2 linked regions of the Homo sapiens genome follow. The protein of the gene in region 1 interacts with the protein of each later gene in a biochemical or structural test. Each region holds a gene or a part of one and is shown on either strand. Other genes may lie near its edges.

Region 1 (5,945 bases):
TGCTGCATTAGGAGTGACACAAGACAGCCCCGACCCCCCGACTTTCCTCAGCACAGGGGAGATCCACGCCTTCCTCAGCTCTCCCTCGGGGCGGAGAACCAAACGGTTAGTTACCCTGCGTTCTGGCTGCGCCATACAATGCTGGCATCCTCGTGCCGGCCCAGTTCCCTCAGCGCTTCCTCACACAGAGAGGCCCCCAAGGCTTGTCAGGGGAGCAGCAGATCCCAGGACAGTGACCCTGGGACGGAGCCCTGCAGTCATGCCTCGGGCCCCTGCGTAACCTCCACTGTCTCCAGCCCAGGTCTCCTTCCTCAGAGGCTATTGCCTCTCGCTCTGACTGGGCTCCCTGTGGAGGAAGATGGTTTCGAGCACGCGGGAGCCTAGCCTGGCTCTAGCCCTGCCCGTGCCTGTCATGCGCGTCCTGGACTTCTCTGCTCCATGATGCTGCTGTCACTCCCGGCACTCGAGCTGTGACCTGAGTCACATCCCCAGCACTTCCCTCGCCACCCGTGTGGACCTGTTTACCCGCCTCTCCTATCTCAGCACCTTGGCTGTTCCTCCTGGAGTTAACTTCCTCTTTCTACCTCACCCGCCTGGAGAACTCCTACTGATTCCACAAGGCCCCGATGAACAGGGCCCTCCCTGTGCTGCTGGCCCTGCGCCGTGACCCCTCAGCACCATGTGCACCAGTAACCTTCCCAAGGGCAGGCACTGGGTGGCTGGGTCTTTCCTGTCAATATAGGACCAGGCAGGGCTGCCTCCAGAAGCGTTGTGTCGGGAGTGGGCTCCTGGCAGGAGACCTCAACTCCTGGGGAGCCCTGGGGAAGCAGCCAAAGCCCCTGCTGCTGCTTCCTCCCCAAGAAGCGTGACAGCACTTTCCATTGTGTGGAAGGCAGGAGACCTGACCCTCCTGTGTCACTCCACACACGCACCGACTCCCTGGGGCCAGGGTCATCACGAGGAAAGTCCATGCAGATACGCACGGCTACTCCAGGAGGGGGCCTGGCCCTGGCCCTGTGCTCAGCCTCGCTGTGTTAAACCCGCTTCTCAGAGGCCCCCCACAGCCCCATCAGTCTTCTGAGACAGACCCCCACGGGTGACACTGGGATAGCTCTCTCCACCCCCCGCCCTCCACCAGGCCCTGGGGTCAGGAAGTGGAAAGGCTCAGCTGGTGTGGCGGCTTTTCCCAGGCTCACGCCCACACACTGGCCTCTAGCCCCATCCTGAGCAAGACTTGACCCCAGTTGGGTGTGGGTGTCAGCACCGCCCAAGGCCAGGCCATTCCATGCAATCTGCCTGGCGCCGGGCTAAGCACTGCCTGCACCTTATTAATCAACACCAGAGGGGCCGGGTGCGGTTGCTCATGCCTGTAATCCCAGCACTTTGGGAGGCCGAGGTGGGCGGATCACCTGAAGTTAGGAGTTCGAGACCAACCTGCCCATCATGGTGAAACCCCGTTTCTACTAAAAATATAAAAATTAGCTGGGTGTGATGGCGGGCACCTGTAGTCCCAGCTACTCAGGAGCCTGAGGCAGGAGACTCACTTGAACCCGGGAGGTGGAGGTTGCAGTGAGCCAAGATCACACCACTGCACTCTAGCCTGGGCGACAGAGCAAGAACACCTCAAAAAAAAAAAAAAAAAAAAAAAAACACTGGAAGGTGGCATCATCCTAGAGGTTTCCAGGGGACCAGATGGTTGGCCCACGCCCCACAGCTGAGCCGGGTGGGCTGGGCTTCACACCCAGACCTGGGGCCTGAGTTTGCCTGAGCTGTCCTCCAGGTTGGCCCTGCCTGAAGGGCTTATACCTGTTCTAGCTTCACCGGCATCTTCTTCGTAGCAGAACCTTTGGGAGCACGTGGTGACAGGCTGGGGCACGCGGGTGTTAGAGGCAGGTGTGGAGGGCCTGGCCTCCCAGCGCCGCCGTCCATGACTGGGTCTCCTGGGCTCTCTCCACCTTGCAGGAAGCGGGAGAACAGCCTCCAGGAAGACAGAGGCAGCTTCGTTACCACCCCCACTGCGGAGCTGTCCAGCCAGGAGGAGACGCTGCTGGGCAGCTTCCTCGACTGGAGCCTGGACTGCTGCTCTGGCTATGAAGGCGACCAGGAGAGTGAGGGCGAGAAGGAGGGCGACGGTGAGTGTGGGGCCAGGGTGCACCAGAAGGGACATCACACAGAGGGTGGCTCTCACCGAGGGCCTCTGGGCACCCGGCCCTGTGCGAGCGCTGTGGGAGGAAGATGTGCACAGAGTGCGGGGTGGGGCCAGCTCCTGCCCCGCCGGGGAGTGTGTCCAGACATGGGGAGAGAGGAGGGGAGAGCCCCCAAAAGACCACAGCTGCTCCCACCACACAGGGATGAGAGGACTTAGGCCACACCTATCCGGCTCCTGCTCATTCCGTGTTGGGAGGACCTCACTAGGATGAGGGAGGCAGAGACCCTGTCTGGAGTTCATGGAGATCCTTCTAGGCCTGTAGTCTCATGCCTGTAATCCCAGCAATTTGAGAGGCTGAGGCAGGAGGATCACTTCAGGCTAGAAGTTCAAGACCAGCCTGGGTGACACAGCAAGACAAAAAATTTAAAAATTAGCTGGGCATCGTGGCGTGCGCCTGTGGTCCCAGCTACTCAGGAGGCTGAGGTGGGAGGATCTCTTGAGCACAGGAGGTGGGAGCTGCAGTGAGCCGTGATCATGCCACTGCACTGTAGCCTGGGCGTTCTTTCTAGAATGTTGTTTGAGGTGTGCCCACGTGGTATACGTGACACTCCTCACTGCCCTGCTGGGATCACTGCCCTGTGCAAACCCCAGGCAGACTGCGGGGTCCTTGCCAGAAGCCCAGTTAGTGTGAGTCCTGTCAGTTTCCCGGTTGCTTGCTTCTGCGTCCACTTGGCTTGAGCTAGATGGCCAACTTGTCATCTCCACATTTGTTGGAGTCATGGCGGGCAGCTGTCCAACTTGGAAGAGGCATGTCACCCACGCTTCTCACCACAGGAGGGTAACACAGGGGACCGTAGCAAGGTAGAAGATTCTTGACCTGGACTTCAGGGTCCTGACCTGGCAGGGGGTCTCCCCTGATGCTTGGGTGTGACATGACTTCCCTCCCCACCAACCTTCCTGCAGTGACAGCTCCCAGCGGCATCCTCGATGTCACCGTGGTCTACCTGAACCCAGAACAGCATTGCTGCCAGGAATCCAGTGATGAGGAGGCTTGTCCAGAGGACAAGGGACCCCAGGACCCACAGGCACTGGCGCTGGACACCCAGATCCCTGCAACCCCTGGACCCAAACCCCTGGTCCGCACCAGCCGGGAGCCAGGGAAGGACGTCACGACCTCAGGGTACTCCTCCGTCAGCACCGCAAGTCCCACAAGCTCCGTGGACGGTGGCTTGGGGGCCCTGCCCCAACCTACCTCAGTGCTGTCCCTGGACAGTGACTCGCACACACAGCCCTGCCACCATCAGGCCAGGAAGTCATGTTTACAGTGTCGTCCCCCAAGTCCCCCGGAGAGCAGTGTTCCCCAGCAACAGGTGAAGCGGATAAACCTATGCATACACAGTGAGGAGGAGGACATGAACCTGGGCCTTGTGAGGCTGTAAGTGTGTCAGCACATTTGCCGCAGTGGATGTGTACTGAGGGGGCTGGAGGCGAAGGGTGGGAGCATAGCATAGGAACGCTGCATAGACCATGGAGGCCTTTGCGCAGAGAGCAGAGAGGATGACTTGCGGCCACCAAGTTTCTGTCTCCGCGGGAGTCCCGTGCAAGCCATCAGAATGTTGAAATGAGGGTGAAGAGCTCAGATCCCTCTCTTTGGAAAGTTTAGCCTGGAAGCAGTTGGCCACACTGTGTGGAGGGCACCTCTCTGTCCCTTCCGTGTCTCACTGTCTCTGGAAGCTTCAGCCCATGTGTGTCCTGGTGTTCCCAGCCCCACCAGAGCCCCGTGCCGGGAGCTGACAGCTTTCACGCTTAAGGCACGTGTGACCTGGGTAGTCAGACACCACTTGAGCCCCTGCCCACATCTGCTGGTTTGGGGCTTCAGTGGGGAGCTGACAGCTGTGAGCACACCACTGTCCCCTCATCCACCTCGGCCTGCATGGGGCACCCACTTCCTTCTGGGTGGGGCTTCCATGGTAAGGGGGCCTGCGTCCCTGCACACTGCGAGGACTGCCTTGGCCACAGGCCCACTCCCTACGACACGTGACTCGTTTTAGAGCTCTGTCCCAGAGGCGTTCGTATGTGACCCACAGATGGCGTCAATGTGAACACCTCTCTTTGTGCTGAATTTCTGGGCCATTCTTTTCCTGTCTTATTTCTAAATTTCCTTCTTCCAAGATGAAAACAAAAGAAAAACTTAAAACAGAAGGTATTAAAAAAACAAGAGATTCCCACCATTATTTAGGTTCACCTGCAAAACAAAAATCTTACTCCAGCCCCTCAATGCCATCCTGACACACTTTATGCAAAAAGAATTTTCCCAGATAGGCTAGCCAGAAAAAACTTCAAGTCCTCTGTAACATCTGAGGTGACCAAGAGGCAGAAGAGCAGAGCAGTCGGGGGCCGTGTCCTGGCTGATCCCAACTGCAGCTCTGCTGTGGGGGCCCGTGGGAGGGAGGCAGACCCCTGGGCTTTCCTGCTGGCCACGGAGACTCTGCTCCTGCATGGAAAGGGAGCCTGGGAGCCAGCAGCCCACGCCTGGGGAGCCTGCCTGGGGCCATGTGACCATGGCCTCTCCCTGGGAACGGGCTGACCACAACACACCCTGCTGCCATCCACTTCTGTTTACTCTGCAAATGTAAGAAAGAACCACTTGGCCAGAAGTGTCCCCCAGATGCTTTTTTTTTTTTTTTTTTGGAGACAGTTTTGCTCTTGTCTCCCCGGCTGGAGTGCAGTGGCATGATCTCAACTCTCAACTCACTGTAACCTCCGCCTCCCGGATACTCCTGCCTCAGCCTCCTGGGTAGCTGGGATTACAAGCACCCAACCACGCCCAGCTAATTTTTGTATTTTCGGTAGAGACGGGATTTCACCATGTTGGCCAGGCTAGTCTCGAACTCATGACCTCAAGTGATCCGCCCACTTCGGTCTCCCAAAGTGCTGGGATTACAGGCATGAGCCACGGCGCCTGGCCCCCAAATGCTCTTGAACCGGAAACCCAGGGATGGGAGATGCTCACTGAGCTGCTGCTTTTATGTGTGCTGGTGCTATGTGTGTTCATGTCCGCGGCAGCTGTCTTTTTGCTACTATAAGGGAATTCTGGCCACCCTGGGTGGGGTGTGGTCGGGGTGAGAACCCAAGCGTTGGAACTGTAGACCCGTCCTGTCGACTGTGTGCCCCTGGGCATGTGTGAGCCTCAGTTTCCTCATCTGTAAGGGGGGCAATGATACCTACCTCACAGGGGTGTTGTGAGGATTAAATGTGAGGAGGATAGTGGCAGATGAGTGATGGACGTCCTTCACTGCCTCGGCCCCTTGTCCAGGGGCTCTTAATCCCAACTCTGCATGGAGTCAGTTCTCTGCTTTCTCCCAGCTTGCACCTGAAGGAGGAAACCACTCCAGGGGGACCTGGCCCCGCCTGCCTGTGGTGGGTGGGTTCCTGCATCACCCACCTGCTGACTGAGCATTTCCCTGCCTCCTCCTTCACAGAGAATCTCCAGGGAGGCAGGGCCACCGTCACCCTCCCCCACCGCTGATGGAGGGGCCCACCCGGAGCGCTGGGCCAGAGCTGCCTGGGTCCCAACCTCCCTGACAACTCCCTTTGTGCCCTCCTTCCCCTCTGCGATGGCACCTTCCCATTAACGACTATGGAATGGACTCACCTGTCCCATCTTTAAACAGCAACCCCAGGCTCTGTTTTTCTTTCAGCTACCGCCTGGGATTTCTTGCCCCCTAATTGTTTATTCTTGTTAACACCAACTACATGGGGCCCTGCTGCCTTCCTCACTTCCTCCCTCAGGTGT
Region 2 (7,037 bases), about 17 Mb from region 1:
TTTATTTTCCCTTGCTTATTTAAAGGAAACAGTGCCACACATAATGCTGTGCAAATAAGCAATCAACATTTACTGTTTGCTAAATGAATGAATATGATGCCTAATCCCTCCTGGTTACCTTGTATTTTCATAATCACAATTTCCCAGAAACTGTGAAATTACTGGGATTGTTTTAAGTAGTTTGGTGATGGTTCCAATTTTCAACAATAAAATATAATTAATATCAGAGCCAATCGATTTGCTCTTTTTTACCTCTGACTGAGTTGGCTGGTGCTCATGCAGTCCAAGTATAGTGTTAAGATAGGCAAATTGAGGCAGGAGGATTGCTTGAGTCTCAGAGTTTGAGACTATAGTGCACTGTGACTGAACCTGTGAATAGTCACTGGAATCCAGTTTGGGCAACATAGTGAGACCTTGTCTCTTTAAAAAAAAAAAAAAAGATATGAGAGTAACCTCTGAACTTCAAAATAGAAAATTTTTAAAAGTAAATATTCTTTGATTTAAGTAGGCTTTTTTACTACAGTGTTTGTACCTTTGTATGATATAGTTTTTCTTGTGTAGATAAGTCCTGTTAAAGAAAATATAATATCCTGTTTTACAATGTGAAGTTAGTAAAGATTTACAGAACTTTGTTTCCTTTAAGAAGGTTTTACTGAATTCTTAGCTAAATTAATCCCATTTAAAGATTGATTTACATGCAATAATATTCAGAAATATTTAATATATAAAGTAAATCTTAATTGGACAGGTTCTTGAGGTGAATTACCATACCCAAGAATTAGCTCCTGATCAGTAAGACAATTCTGGGAGGACCAGTTATAGGAATTGTGAATTATAGGGACTCTCTCATGCTCTACAAAATCTGCCAAATAATTAAGATCTGTTTTTCCCAGTACATTAAAAATAACATTTTTCTCTCTTGTAGTGTGACTGTGGGAAGATGGAGGAGTATGAGAAGTTCTGTGAAAAAAGTCTTGCCAGAATACAAGAAGCATCACTATCCACAGAGAGCTTTCTCCCTGCTCAGTCTGAAAGTATCTCACTTATTCGCTTTCATGGAGTGGCTATCCTTTCTCCACTGGTAAACTTGCTTTGTTTTTAAATAGTTTTTTTCTGTAGTGAACAACTAAAACAGTTCGTGGAAAAACAAAAGAAAGGCTTATAAACATTTGAAGAGATGCCCTCATTCAGAATTAGAGAAATACAAATGAATTAGCATTTTTTACTTACTATTATAGATTGGCCAAGACCTAATAGAACTTTGTGTTCCTTAGATTGTGGAGAAAATGCACTTTTAATGCACTTTTGCTAAGAGAATCAGTTTATTTTATTTCTAGATGAGCAGTTTGGTAGAATTTAAAAGCATACATAGCCTTTGGGTCAGCAGTTCCATTTTTGGGTATATCCTACAATTATATGTGAGCCCAAAGAAATAAGTACAAAGTTACATTAGCATTGTTTAAAATAGCAAAGGTTGACGAACCACCTAAATGTCCATCAGTAGTGGAGTAGTTTAACTATGGTCTATTTTATAAACTCTCATACATACCATTACAGTAAGGCAGATGTAAATGTTGAGGCATGGAAGGATCTCAATGATCTAGTGTAAAACACCGTGTGCAGCATGCTGTCAGGGGCAGTATAGAGTCATGATTAGAGGTCCAGACTCTGGGCCAGGCACAGTGGCTCACACCTATAGTCCCAATGCTTTGAGAGACCGGAAGGAAGAGGATTGCTTGAGACCAGGAATTCAAGACTAGCCTGGTCAACATAGTGAGACCTCATCTCTATAAAAACATGTTAAAAAATTAGCCTGGCGCAGTGACATGTGCCTGTAGTCCCAGCTCTTCAAAGGCTAAGGCGGAAGGATCGCTTGAACCTAGGAGTTGCAGGCTGCAGTGAGTCAGGATTGCATCATTGCCTGGACTACAGAGAAAGACCCTATCCCAAAAGAAGGAAAAAAACTCCAGCCTGGGCTAACAGAGCAAGACCCTATCCCAAAAGAAGGAAAAAAAAAGTCTAGGCTGTGGAGCCTTCTGGCCTGGGTCCAAATCATTGCTTTGCTACTTACTTGCTGTGTAAACTTGTGGTCCATTTTCTTATTTGTTAAATGGGGATAAAATAGTGCCTACCTCATAAGGCTATTTTGAAGATTAAATGAATTCGTAGATATAAAATGGTTAGAATACCACCTGGATCATAAGAGGTACCCAATATAAGTTAACCATTTGGGTTTTTCAAAGGATGGCTATTCCTTTTCTGGGGAGTGGTGAGAGAATATAGGATAATAGGGAAGACACTTCATCATACACCCTTTGATACTAATTGGATATTTTAAAAATGCATATGACTTTATTTTAAATCACAAACTAATATTAGAAAAAAGTGAGCTTTAAATTTATTTTTTGGTATAACAGGAGTTAAGAGATTAATTTTAATTAATTGAATTGAATTTTTAAAGACACCAGAGCTAACTGCCAACTTTTTGTAATGAAACTTTCAAACATACAGCAAAGTTGAAAGGATAGTGCAGTGACCACCCATAGATTTACCATTAGATTAAATAATTTTTAACATTGTTGTCATCTTTGCTTTATTGTGTTTGTGATTTTTATATACATCTATGTGTGTGTGTACATATGACATTTTTAAAAATTGCCTAGCTATTTGAAAACCACGGAGACCTGACACTGCTCCCCTAAATATTTTGGTGTACATCTCTTAAAAATAAGGACATTCTCCTATGTAAAGCCCCAATACCATTATCACATCTTAAGAAAACTAATAATTTTTAATAATATCTAATAATTCTGTTCATATTTAAATTTTTCCATTTGTGCTCAAAATGCCTTTTATAACTTTATTCCCCCAATCTGGATCCAAAGTTCACAATTAGTATTTGCTTGTTATGTTTCTTTATTTTAATCTAAAATAGCTACTGTACGTCTTAAAAACAGTTTTTTTTATTGGTTGAGCATGGTGCCTCACGCCTATAATCCCAGCACTTTGGGAGGCTGAGGTGGGTGGATTGCATTGCTTGATCCCCAGAGTTTGAGACCAGTCAGGGCAACGTGGTGAAATCTCATCCCTACAAAAAATACAAAAAAGAGCTGGGTGTGGTGGCGCGCACCAGGAGTCTCAGCTGCTCTAGAGGCTGAGGTGGGAGGATCACCTGAGCCCGGGAGGCTGAGGCTGCGGTGAACCCTGATCATGCCACTGCACTCCAACCTGGGTGACAGAGTGAGATACTGTCTTTAAAAAAATAACAAAACTATGATACTGAATTTTTAAAGAGACCAGAGCTATTGTCTTGTAGAATTCCTTAGATCTTGGATTTGTCCCATTGTTTCCTAATAGTGTTATTTAACTTGTTTCTCTAGTCCCTGTAGTTCCTATGAACTGGAAGTGAAGTTTGATAAACAGGTTAAAGATTTTTGGAATTCTTTGAAGATAGGGCTGGGCGGGGTGGCTCATGCCTGTAATCCCAGCACTTTGGGAGGCTGAGACCAGCCTGGCCAACATGACGAAACCCCGTCTCTACTAAAAATACAAAAATTAGCTGGGCGTGGTGGTGGATGCCTGTAATCCCAGCTATGTGGGAGGCTGAGGCAGGAGGATCCCTTGAACCCAGGAGGCGAAGGTTGCAGTGAGCCAAGATCCACTGAACCCAGTAGGCAAAGGTAGTGAGCCGAGATCGAGCCACTGCACAACAGCCTGGGCAACAGAGTGAGACCCTCTCTCAAAAAAAAAAAATGTAATCCCAGCACTTTGGGAGCCCGAGATGGGTGTATCACTTGAGGTCAGGAGTTCGAGACCAGCCTGGCCAACATGGCGAAACCCCTTGTCTACTAAAAATATAAAAATTAGCTAGGCATGATGGTGGGTGCCTGTAATCCCAGCTGTGCGTTAGGCCGAGGCAGGAGAATCGCTTGAACCCAGGAGGGATCGGGATCGCACCACTGTACTCCAACCTGAGACTCCATCTCAAAAAAAAAAGGAATTCTTTGGAGATGATGCCCTGCACTTCATACTAAATTAAATCAGAAGTTACATAATGTTTAGTTGCCCTCTATTAGTGATGTTTAGTTTGAACACTTGCTTACAGTAGTGACTGCCAGATGGCTCTTTAAAGTACACATTTTCTCCTTTTGATTAGCAAGTAAATTGTATAATCATTCTTTGGTACCATGCAATTAGGAAAAAGTTTTAAAACAACATATTTATCAGCTATTTGATAACACATTGCTTGATTTAATGTGGACCAAAATGTCTGAGGCTTGTTGTGTAGGGTCTATGACTCCGTCTGTTATTTATTTATAAGCAAAATGTGATGTTTATGGACCTAATCCACACTTTTATGTTGTATTTGATAGGTGAATATTGCAACTTTTGAAATAATTTTTTAATGATATATTTTCTATTTGTGTAAGTCTACGATAAGTCTTGACTGTTAACAGTGATTTAATTTCCCAGGACTTAATAATTAAGATTGAAATCCATTATAAAGAGATACAATGCTTAGAAGCCTTCCATTTTTTAGGTACATTATATTTTTATCAGAAGGTAGAGTGAGGTGAAAGAAAAGATGTATTCTGCTTTTGTAGGCAAATAATATATTATCTGTTTATTTTATCATTAAACCTTTGGACATTTTTTGAGGCAGCAAAGAGTTAAATTGTGCACTGGTTAGAAAATTAAAAGTTGTAGAATCCAGTTGATCCAGTGAAATAAGATACTGAAGATGGGCCAGGCGCGGTGGCTCGCGCCTGTAATCCCAGCACTTTGGGAGGCCGAGGTGGGCAGATCACAAAGTCAGGAGTTCGAGACCAGCCTGACCAACATGGTGAAACCCCATCTCTACTAAAAATACAAAAATTAGCTGGGCGTGGTGGCACGCGCCTGTAAGCCCATCTACTCCGGAGGCTGAGGCAGGAGAATCGCTTGAACCCAGGAGGCGGAGGTTGCAGTGAGCCGAGATCGCACCACTGCACTCCAGCCTAGGTGACAGAGCAAGACTCCATCTCAAAAAAAAAAAAAAAAGGATACTGAATGTGAAGTAATATTCAAGTCAATATTCAAGTGAAGTAATAAAAAACTCAGCAGTGGCCAAAAGGGCCTTAATTTTATTTCTGTCATTTTAGAACATTTGATTAGTGAACAAACTTTTTTCTTTTTAACCTTTTAACTGAAAATAATTTACACATAGCAAAATGCACAAATCTTAAGTGTTAAAGTTCCATGAGTTTTGATATATGGCATACACATGTATAACTCACACCCACACAGGATTTTCTTCACCATGGAAAGATCTCTAATGCCCCATCCCACTCAGTACCCAGACCATTGTTCTGATTTCTTTCACTATACATTAGTTTTGCCTGTTGCACATGTTTTTAATCTTTCTGATTCACAACTTCCCGATTTTATGATATTTTTATCGTGGGAAATAATTACATTTTTATGATGTTTTGCAGCTTAACATTGAGAAAAGAAAGGAAATGCAACAAGAAAAGCAGAAAGCACTTGATGTAGAAGCAAGAAAGCAGGTTAACAGGAAGAAAGCTTTACTGACTCGTGTCCAGGAGATTCTTGACAATGTTCAGGTGTGTGATTTTAGCTGTTTCAGTTATAATAAAGAAATCATAAGATAAGCGTTGATGATAATTTTTCTGAAATATATTTGCACTTAACTAATTACTAATGTACTTTACTGTTACGTTTGAGAAGCTTCATAATTTGTGATTTTCCATTTCAGTTACTCCAAAGAGAATGTACTTGCTTGTTAGTAATGCCCAGTACTTGAATCAGAGGATATTTACACAATAGAACCATACACTGAATATAATTGCTTATTGTTTGCATCTTATGACTCTAAAAACATTGAATTCTCAGTGACAAAATGACAGAATTGGGTATTATTGTTTACCCCAAACTAATTAGACTATTGACTAAATGACCTTATTCTCATTCTTTGCTTAAGTAAATAACTGCCTCCAATTTTTTTTTGGTGAAAACTCTTAGATACACAAAATGCAGTTTAGATAACATTGAATTGTTTAGATGCATCCTATGTCTAAAAACTATTTAAACAACACATCTACACCTTGTGCAGTTATTTTTAGATTTGTATAAACAATTTGTTCTGACATGTGGATCATTTTGTACTAAAAAGAAAAACAAATGAATTAGATTGAACGAATAATTTCTACAACATATAGCAGTGTTCTGCTGGTAACATCTTTTTGTTTTTTCATAATCTTAGGAGTTTGTGGTTTGTCTGTTTAATTCGTATCGATGACACGTGTATAATGAACCTTAAGGGTTCATTTCTCTGTTGGTAGTGTAAACTGAAGAAAATGACTGAGGCAAGTCTCAATCGATTTAGAGGTTTGTTTTGCCAAGGTTGAGGATGTGCCAAGGAAAAAGAGACAAAAGTTACAGTAGAATCTGTGGCTTATGCTTTTCCAGAAGAGGTTTTGAGGACTTCAGTGTATAAAGGGGAGAGAACAGCAGGAGGGGAAAGAGGAAAGAAAAAAAAAGGAGGGTAGGTAATGAGATAAGCGATCACATTTTTGTGAGGCTTTGATTAGCACTCACTGAATCCACAAGTCGCATGAGAAAGGTGGGGGTAGAGGAACAGTCAGTTATGCATTCATCTCAAGCTCAATAAATCTGCATTTTACATAGGATAAAGTAAGCAGAGTAGAGGAAGAAGTCAAATATACATTTGTCTCCAAAGGGATGATTTCTAGTCATCTTTGGTCTTTGTCCGTATCTTGTCAGAGTGAAATTCAGCAGAACTCTGGGTTGGTGTAAAGATTTTGGGGCCTACGAGGAATTTCCTTGTGAGCAATTTGCAAGAGAGTCTACCTGGGTAGATAGGTGGCCTTCTATTTTGCAGCTATCTGTTTAGGAATAAAAGGAAGGCAGTTTTTGTGTGACTCAGTTCCTAAGCTTTACTTTTTCCTTTGACATGTGATTTTCCATTTCAGTTACTCGAAATCCCTATGTAATGAGTCTTCAGAATCTGATGAAAA

The links. The genes of interacting proteins can lie anywhere in the genome.
Region 2: of the proteins of CCNF (region 1) and CCP110, one has a biochemical effect on the other in vitro, tested with the Homo sapiens proteins (one study listed by BioGRID).

The regions. Positions count from the first base shown.
Region 1 is NC_000016.10:2,453,433-2,459,377, forward strand, and holds the end of CCNF (cyclin-F), read left to right. Parts: coding exon 1-105; intron 106-1,962; coding exon 1,963-2,132; intron 2,133-2,633; exon of another isoform or gene 2,634-3,112; coding exon 3,113-3,588; 3' UTR 3,589-5,422; downstream 5,423-5,945. UniProt on the Homo sapiens protein: Substrate recognition component of a SCF (SKP1-CUL1-F-box protein) E3 ubiquitin-protein ligase complex which mediates the ubiquitination and subsequent proteasomal degradation of target proteins.
Region 2 is NC_000016.10:19,526,942-19,533,978, forward strand, and holds part of CCP110 (centriolar coiled-coil protein of 110 kDa), read left to right. Parts: intron 1-925; 5' UTR 926-940; coding exon 941-1,081; intron 1,082-5,474; coding exon 5,475-5,603; intron 5,604-7,037.